2 linked regions of the Homo sapiens genome follow. The protein of the gene in region 2 interacts with the protein of the main gene of each other region in a pairwise test. Each region holds a gene or a part of one and is shown on either strand. Other genes may lie near its edges.

The links.
Region 1: the proteins of SATB1 (region 2) and CBS interact in a two-hybrid assay, tested with the Homo sapiens proteins (one large-scale study listed by BioGRID).

The regions. Positions count from the first base shown.
Region 1 is NC_000021.9:43,055,546-43,058,937, forward strand, and holds part of CBS (cystathionine beta-synthase), read right to left. Parts: coding exon 3,289-3,392; intron 2,863-3,288; exon of another isoform or gene 2,746-2,862; intron 2,709-2,745; coding exon 2,600-2,708; intron 1,343-2,599; coding exon 1,258-1,342; intron 555-1,257; coding exon of another isoform or gene 513-554; intron 1-512. UniProt on the Homo sapiens protein: Hydro-lyase catalyzing the first step of the transsulfuration pathway, where the hydroxyl group of L-serine is displaced by L-homocysteine in a beta-replacement reaction to form L-cystathionine, the precursor of L-cysteine.
Region 2 is NC_000003.12:18,415,331-18,419,150, forward strand, and holds part of SATB1 (DNA-binding protein SATB1), read right to left. Parts: intron 1,749-3,820; coding exon 1,572-1,748; intron 804-1,571; coding exon 677-803; intron 1-676. UniProt on the Homo sapiens protein: Crucial silencing factor contributing to the initiation of X inactivation mediated by Xist RNA that occurs during embryogenesis and in lymphoma.

The sequences.
Region 1 (3,392 bases), on a different chromosome or scaffold from region 2:
CCCACTTAGAGCCCCAGGAAAAGATAGGGAACACAGATGAGATCAGCTCCTTGCATTTTGGGGAAACGGAGGCACAGCAACTGTTGGAGAAGGGAGCCCTGGGAGCCCTGAGTGCCGCAGGCTTCTGTGGCCCTGGCAGCTCGGCCCAGAGTCAATGGACTAGGGCCAGCCAGGGGACTTTCCGACAAGGGCCAGCTGGTGGTATTTTAGGTCTTGGGGGCCGTGCCGTCTCTGTTATGAGCACGCAGCCCTGACGTGCTTGAAAGCAGCCACAGACGGTGGTGACAAGCGTGGACATGCTCCAGGAAGACTTGATTTGGGGACCCTGACATTGGAATTTGCATCTTTTTTTTTTTCTGAGATGTTCAAACACAAGTAAATGTGAGATTAAGAGGGGGATCCCTCCTACCCAAGCTTGGGGGTGGGTCCAGGACCCTGGAAGGCCTCCATTTGCCATGGGGAGGCTGTGAATCTGAGCCTGAGAGCCATTCTGAGGGGTGGGTGATACCTACCTGCAGGCCCCCCCACCACGCCTGCCCAGGCCTGGTCCTGCGCTGCAGAGCCAAGGACGGGAGATGGGGTTAGACTTGGGGCCCTCACGGACCAGCCTCAGCCACCGAGCGCTCACCCCCTGCACACAGGCCTGGTGGGTGGGCAGGCTCCAGGCTCCAGGGCCCCTCCCAACTCTTCCTGTGGGCCCCAGGCCCAGGGCTGCCATCTATGACCCAAAACCTGCGAGCGACTCTCCTGGCCTGTGGGGATGTGGTGGGGACGCCCGGGGATGCGCTCAGGAGTTGCAAAACCTCATGAGCTTGCTGGGAGCGGGGCTCTGAGGACAGCCCATCAGTGGCTCCTGTGAGACCCACATGAGGCTTCCATTCAGAGCAGCCCTCCGAATGCCAGGGTCAGGACTTGAAACCCTTCTAGATGTTTCTGGGCTTGTCCCTGAGAATCCCCAAGACTGCTGGCCTCCCCGGAGGCAAGGGGCCTGGACTCCTGAGCCTCTGCATGCTGGACAAAGGGCCCTACCCAGTGTGGCCTGATGAGGGGTCCCTGCAGGAATCACAGGTACAGCCCACCAGCCCAGGGCATGTGGGAGGCCCAGGCATAAAGACTGGGTGTCACTGAAGGTCGGCACCACCCACTCCCCTAACACCCCGCAGGGGATGGGGGGCCCAGCTGCTGCCCATGGCAGAGGCCAGGCTTGGTGGCCTGACCCCAGTGAGAACCCCACGCACAGAGCAGGGCCCCACTCACACTGGATCTGCTCGTGCACCACCAGGGCGAAGTGGTCCATCTCCAGGATGTGCGAGAGCCTGCCCAGCGTGTCCGTGAGGCGGATCTGCAAGGGAAGCGTGGTCAGTGGCAGGGGGAACATGGCCCCACGAGTTTTCTGTGGAGTGAGAGGGGATGCGATGGTGGGTCCTGCAAAGCCCACCCGGGAGGCAGTGGCAGCCGAACGTGGGAAATACGTGGATTCGGGTGACGTCTCGGGTGTGTGTGTGAGATGGGAAAGAAGTCGAATTCACTCCTAGGTTTGGGCAGAACCCTCAGCCTTTCCAGTGTCAAGAGCCACACCTGCATGTCCCAGGGGATCCGTGTGGAAGGTCACACAAACTTTCCTGGGCCACCCTCAGGGCAGCAGAGGGTGGGTGTCTCAGGACAACCACGGAGTCTGACCAGCCCGGCAAGGAGCCACCGTGGGCTTCTCCCAGAATGTTCTAGCTCTTGTTGGATAACCAAGTGCATGCACAGGCAAATGAGGCTGGGCAGGAGAAAGACCCCGGCAGACGCCGCATGGTGCCCGGGACAGCCTCTGAGCGCGAATGACCTCCTTAAGTCCCCAAAACACGGCTGGTGTGGATGAGCCTGCACTGATGAGAGCCTGCTCTCCGGCTGCTGCACTTGTAAAGTGGGTGCTTCTCAGCTTCATGGTTTGAGGGGTGCAGCCAGCTTCGGCCTAAGTGGTGTTGAGGGTCGAGGACCCAGCACCCCCACACGGGAAGCGCGGTGTCCCGCCTTCGAGGCTGGAGTACTCTGGCACCCTCTGGGGTCCCGAAGTGCCTGAGTACCTGTTTGAGCCGCGTGTAGGTGACTGCGCACCTGTTTGAACTGCGTGTAGGTGACCGCGCACCTGTTTGAGCTGCCTGTAGCTGACCGGGCACCTGTTTGAGCTGCCTGTAGGTGACCGCGCACCTGTTTGAGCTGCCTGTAGGTGACTGGGCACCCGTTTGAGCTGCCTGTAGGTGACCGCGCACCCGTTTGAGCTGCCTGTAGGTGACCGGGCACCCGTTTGAGCTGCCTGTAGGTGACCGGGCACCCGTTTGAGCTGCCTGTAGGTGACTGGGCACCCGTTTGAGCTGCCTGTAGGTGACCGCGCACCCGCTTGAGCTGCCTGTAGCTGACCGCGCACCTGTTTGAGCTGCCTGTAGGTGACCGGGTACCTGTTTGAGCTGCCTGTAGGTGACCGCTCACCTGTTTGAGCTGCCTGTAGGTGACCGCGCACCTGTTTGAGCTGCGTGTAGGTGACCGGGCACCTGTTTGAGCTGCCTGTAGGTGACTGCGCATCTGTTTGAGCTGCCTGTAGGTGACTGGGTACCTGTTTGAACTGCTTGTAGATGACTTTGCCAACTTGGTCTGACGGCTGCACCTTCCCGGCAAGCAGGGACGAGAGCATGTTCCCAAGCGTCACCATTCCCAGGATTACCCTGTGGGACGGGGGCAGGCAGGGGTCAGCGCTCATACCTCACCCCTCCCAGGACGGTGGGGCACACGCTCAGCTGCCCCAGGGAGGAGCGCTCTCTGGCCACACATGGAAGTCCTCTGCCACGAGCCTACACGCGGCAGGAACCAGTCTGGGCCCTGGTGGGGAGAAAGAAACCAAGAGTCCTTGGACCCGTTCAGCCAGGGTCAAGGGTGACCAGCCGTCAGGTTTCCGCGACGTGGGGCTCTCAGTGGTCACTGGGCATGTGTGCCAAGGCTTTCTGCTGTCAGACATGTCCTCGGGGCATCTCTCCCCTGACCTCCAGGTGGGCCCAGGACAGCCTGCACACAAAGGGTGGGTGGGCTGAGGTCTGAGGGCCTGGAGTGAGCACGGCAGCCCTGCCCCAGGCTGCTCAGGGACCGGCAAGGGGCCTCCAATGCCCTGAACGTCTGTATGAGGCGGCCCAGGCGGGCCTATCAGCCCAGCTGCAGGGTCTGCATGGCTGCCCTGTCCAGTGACACTGACGGGGTGGAGCTGGGCAGACAGAACCCAGGACTGAGCTCTGAGCAGGGGCTGAGACTGACCCCGCCTCATCCACCACGGGCGCCTGGTCGAAGCCCTTCTCCCGGAGGATCTCGATGGTGTGCCCACAGGTGATGGTCGGGAGCACGGTCAGCGGGGCTGACAG
Region 2 (3,820 bases):
ACAGATGCATCTGGAGATTGCTCTCGGTCTCCTGATTGTTCCGATTAGTTAATTACTTTATACAACACATCTGCTGTATCGATGCATGAATTATACATCAGCTGCCTGTGGTGGCTATTTTTTCATGTTACTTCTACCTTCCTGCTCTGATGCGCTTGGGAAGACAATTTAAGGTGTACTGCTTTCTCCTGAGCCATCATGAAAAGCTTTAATGTATTAACCGATTTCCTTTCATTACTCTGTTCATATGAATTAAAAATCATAAAAAAATAAATAAATAAATAAGACTGTGGTAATAGTGAATAAGACAGTCTTTCACAAAATGTACACAGATGGCACTGTTCATGATATGCAAAAATATTTTTTTCTTAAGTAAACTTTATGTAAAATGCCTTCTTGTGATGCATTATTTAATTGACTAAACGTAAAAAGTCTTGTCTTTTGATAACCTGCACAAACCTACACATTTTTTGTGTGTGTGGGGGGGGGGATTGCTTTTAAATTATACATTGAAGTTAGGAAAAAAGGCAGAAGGATAGGGTAACAAAATCGATCTGTATTAACCTTTCTGAAACACAGACTAAAAAAAAATTGAAGGTCGACCAGAGAGAAATGCTTCATTTCAAAAGACCAGGTAAGAAGAATGTTTCACCCTAGATTTGCTGTCTTGACTCACCTGTGTAACTGAATTTTCAATGTGACCACATGATACACATCTTGAAGCATATCTGCTACTGTAGCATCAGGGGCATCTGTCACGTAAGACAGTGGAACTGGATTCCACTTTCCAACCTGGATTAGCCCTATTTCAGATAAAGAGAATATGTCACTAAATATTTTACCCTCAGATAATATATCTACTAGAAGGGTGTTCTTTTCTTTTCTACTACCCCTACCACAAGCAGTACCGTTATTTCTGTTTGAATGATTCCCTTCCCTCTAAAAGGCAGGTCAATGAAAATATTCACAGCTTAGCTTTCCAAATTGTAAAATTATGTAAATGACTGTAGGGTTGTTTATTATTTTGGAAATAAAACCCCATCAATAAAACCTATGCATAAGGCCACATTTTCCTAACTTACAGGAAGTTCTAATAAGACATAGCCGAACCAGTTCTAAATGGCTTTATGATTTAGATAAGATTCTCTATTGCAGTGGGAATCAGCATTGAAAAATACTTTGCAGCCCATAAAACCATCAGAAACAGAATAAAAGAAACAGAACTAGATATTCAGTCATAAATGCAAATTGACTCTCAACAGTCCATCTGCTCAAATACGCTCCTCACTTCCTTGTGGGTCCTCAGTGGAGCAGATTATTAAGGTCAATAAGCATACTAATGATTCAGCTGAAGTAATTTAAAAAAAAAATCTACCTCGACATTCCACATGAGCAAAATGTGTGTTAACTAAACCAAACTGAATTAAGCCAATTTTTTAAAGCCACAGCCTATAAGGAACCAATGTAATACACAGGCTACAGTTCTTTGAATAAAAATATTCAGTGCTTTCTCTGCAAGGTAAACAAAGAATGCTAAGCAATTTTTCCAACCCCACGTACACATTATTTACCTTTGGCCTGGGCAGCAGAGCTATGTGAATAACCTAGAGACAGCAATGCCATTTCGATCAGCTGGTTGAAAAGCATATCCTTTCTCACCAGCACAAATTCTGCATGCTCCTCCTTGCAATCATATTCAATGGCGTTTTCATAATGTTCCACCACACAGAAAACTGGCAGCATGGTTCCTATCAAAAAGATGAAGAAGAAGAGATGGAAAACCAACAATCTTCAGAAATACAGCTTGGGGGTGGCGGGAGGAAATATTAGCCATGAAAATAAATAATCACAAGAGATTCACTGTGCTTCCAAGGCAGACTGGGTACAGTACAGGCAAATGCACACAAATATATACATTCTCATATTATTTAAAGTCGTAACAGAAATATTTAAGTAGAATATGAACTTGGTCCTAAGGTAAGCTGTGCTCTAAATTAACAGTGCATTTTCCAAAAGCAATGAATGCAGAATTACCTTTCTGATCAAATAATAATGGTGACGAAAGAGAAATAAATGTATCTTCTCTAATTTGCTATGAGTAGTATACAGTATGCAAACATAACTCACCATTTATCTTCAGAAGAACCCACCTTTCTACTGCTTACATGATTTTGTTAATAATAAACTTTTCCTGGGTTTGTGTCCAAACAAATTATCTTCGACCACGAAATTTTCATTTTCTTCCTTTTTTAGATATTAACTCTAACTGGTTCCACAAATCATTTTCTTCCTTTTTTAGATATTAGCTCTAACTGGTTCCACAAAAAGTACTTAACCAAACTGGTGCTCATAATACACAATTTCAATATCTGCATAATGTAGAAAAATAACATTTGCTTTTATGAATACTCATTTAACCTACCTAACTAAAAAGAGAGCACGGTACCCATAAGTCTTTAAAATCAACAATCTTTGTTACAGTAAATAAGGTAAAAATGAGAGATAGAAAAGGAAACTGACATACTAGGATAAAGGAATCTGCATAGATTTGGTGTGCTCTCTCTTTATATATTTTAATCCAATACAGTAACTCAGTAGCTAGATGATTAATAAGCACCGGCCACACTACTATTAGAAAGAGGCTTCTTCTAGAAATTGATATTACGGAATGCTGTGGTACTCAAGGTGTTTATGCAGCGCACTGTCAGACTTCCAATGATAACGGAAAAGGGTTAAAAGCAGATGCATCTGAATTGTACTGTGGCAAACTGCCAGAAGGGTATCATCTTTAGCATAAATGATGACAAGGGTTACTTTAACAGGGCACCCAGGATCCACAATTAGTCCTACAATACTAATGCCTCTATAAGCTCTGTCCTCTGGACTCACAGAATCCTACCAACTTCTGAAGATGACTTAGTGCACACCAACCGTAGCTAAAAATCAGGATTTCCTACTGACACCAGAGAGGCCCTTCAAAGATTCTCTATTTGCTTGTTTCTGCTGAACAAAAGCCGGCAATAAAACAGCTACATCTTTCTACATGTGAGTCTTCACCAAAGCTTTAGTGAACTGTTCACAAGAGATTCTAGGTCTGACAAAACCCTTTAGGTTTACTTAGAAAAACTCACAAACTCATTCGGAGGTACCAATAGGCTAGGCATGAAAAACAAGCCGCAGAGCTTGCCAATATTTTTGTCATTCATTCAGCTGTTTTATACCAGAGAAAGAACCCGTCGGGGATCAGAAGACAACTTGGGGAGACCACAGCAAAAATAGCAATATGCAAACTGGCGATTCCTTCCTTGGCTTGAAGGTATTCTGGCAAAATCGCCTAAACAAATAAAACCATTCAATCCCTTTTTCTTAGTAGTGTTTTCTCATCTCAGCCATAATTTTCATTTAGCACCTATCAGACAGAAACCATGCACATGAAAAATAAGATGAAAATGTTAATAAAAACCCACAAAAAGACTTTAGTAATTTTGTTATTTGGAGTATCTGAGACCCTCCTACAATTAAACTGCATTTTTAGAATACATCCAAAACAAAACAAAACAAAACCAAAAAGCATTTGAGCAGGAAGTGAATTTACTGTACTTTTAGTTTTCCTCCTCCTGTCCTGATATCTTCAAAGAGTTGGGTAAGTACAACAAAAATGTACACATTCATTTTTCCTTTTGTAGGATGAATCAGATGTATTCTACAATATGCTTTTCCTTAGATCTATGAAATAACTGCAGGGTTTTCAAACTATTGAAATATATTGGATTTATTGTGGATTTTATTGATCATGTTTAGAGGTACCCTAAAATAATAA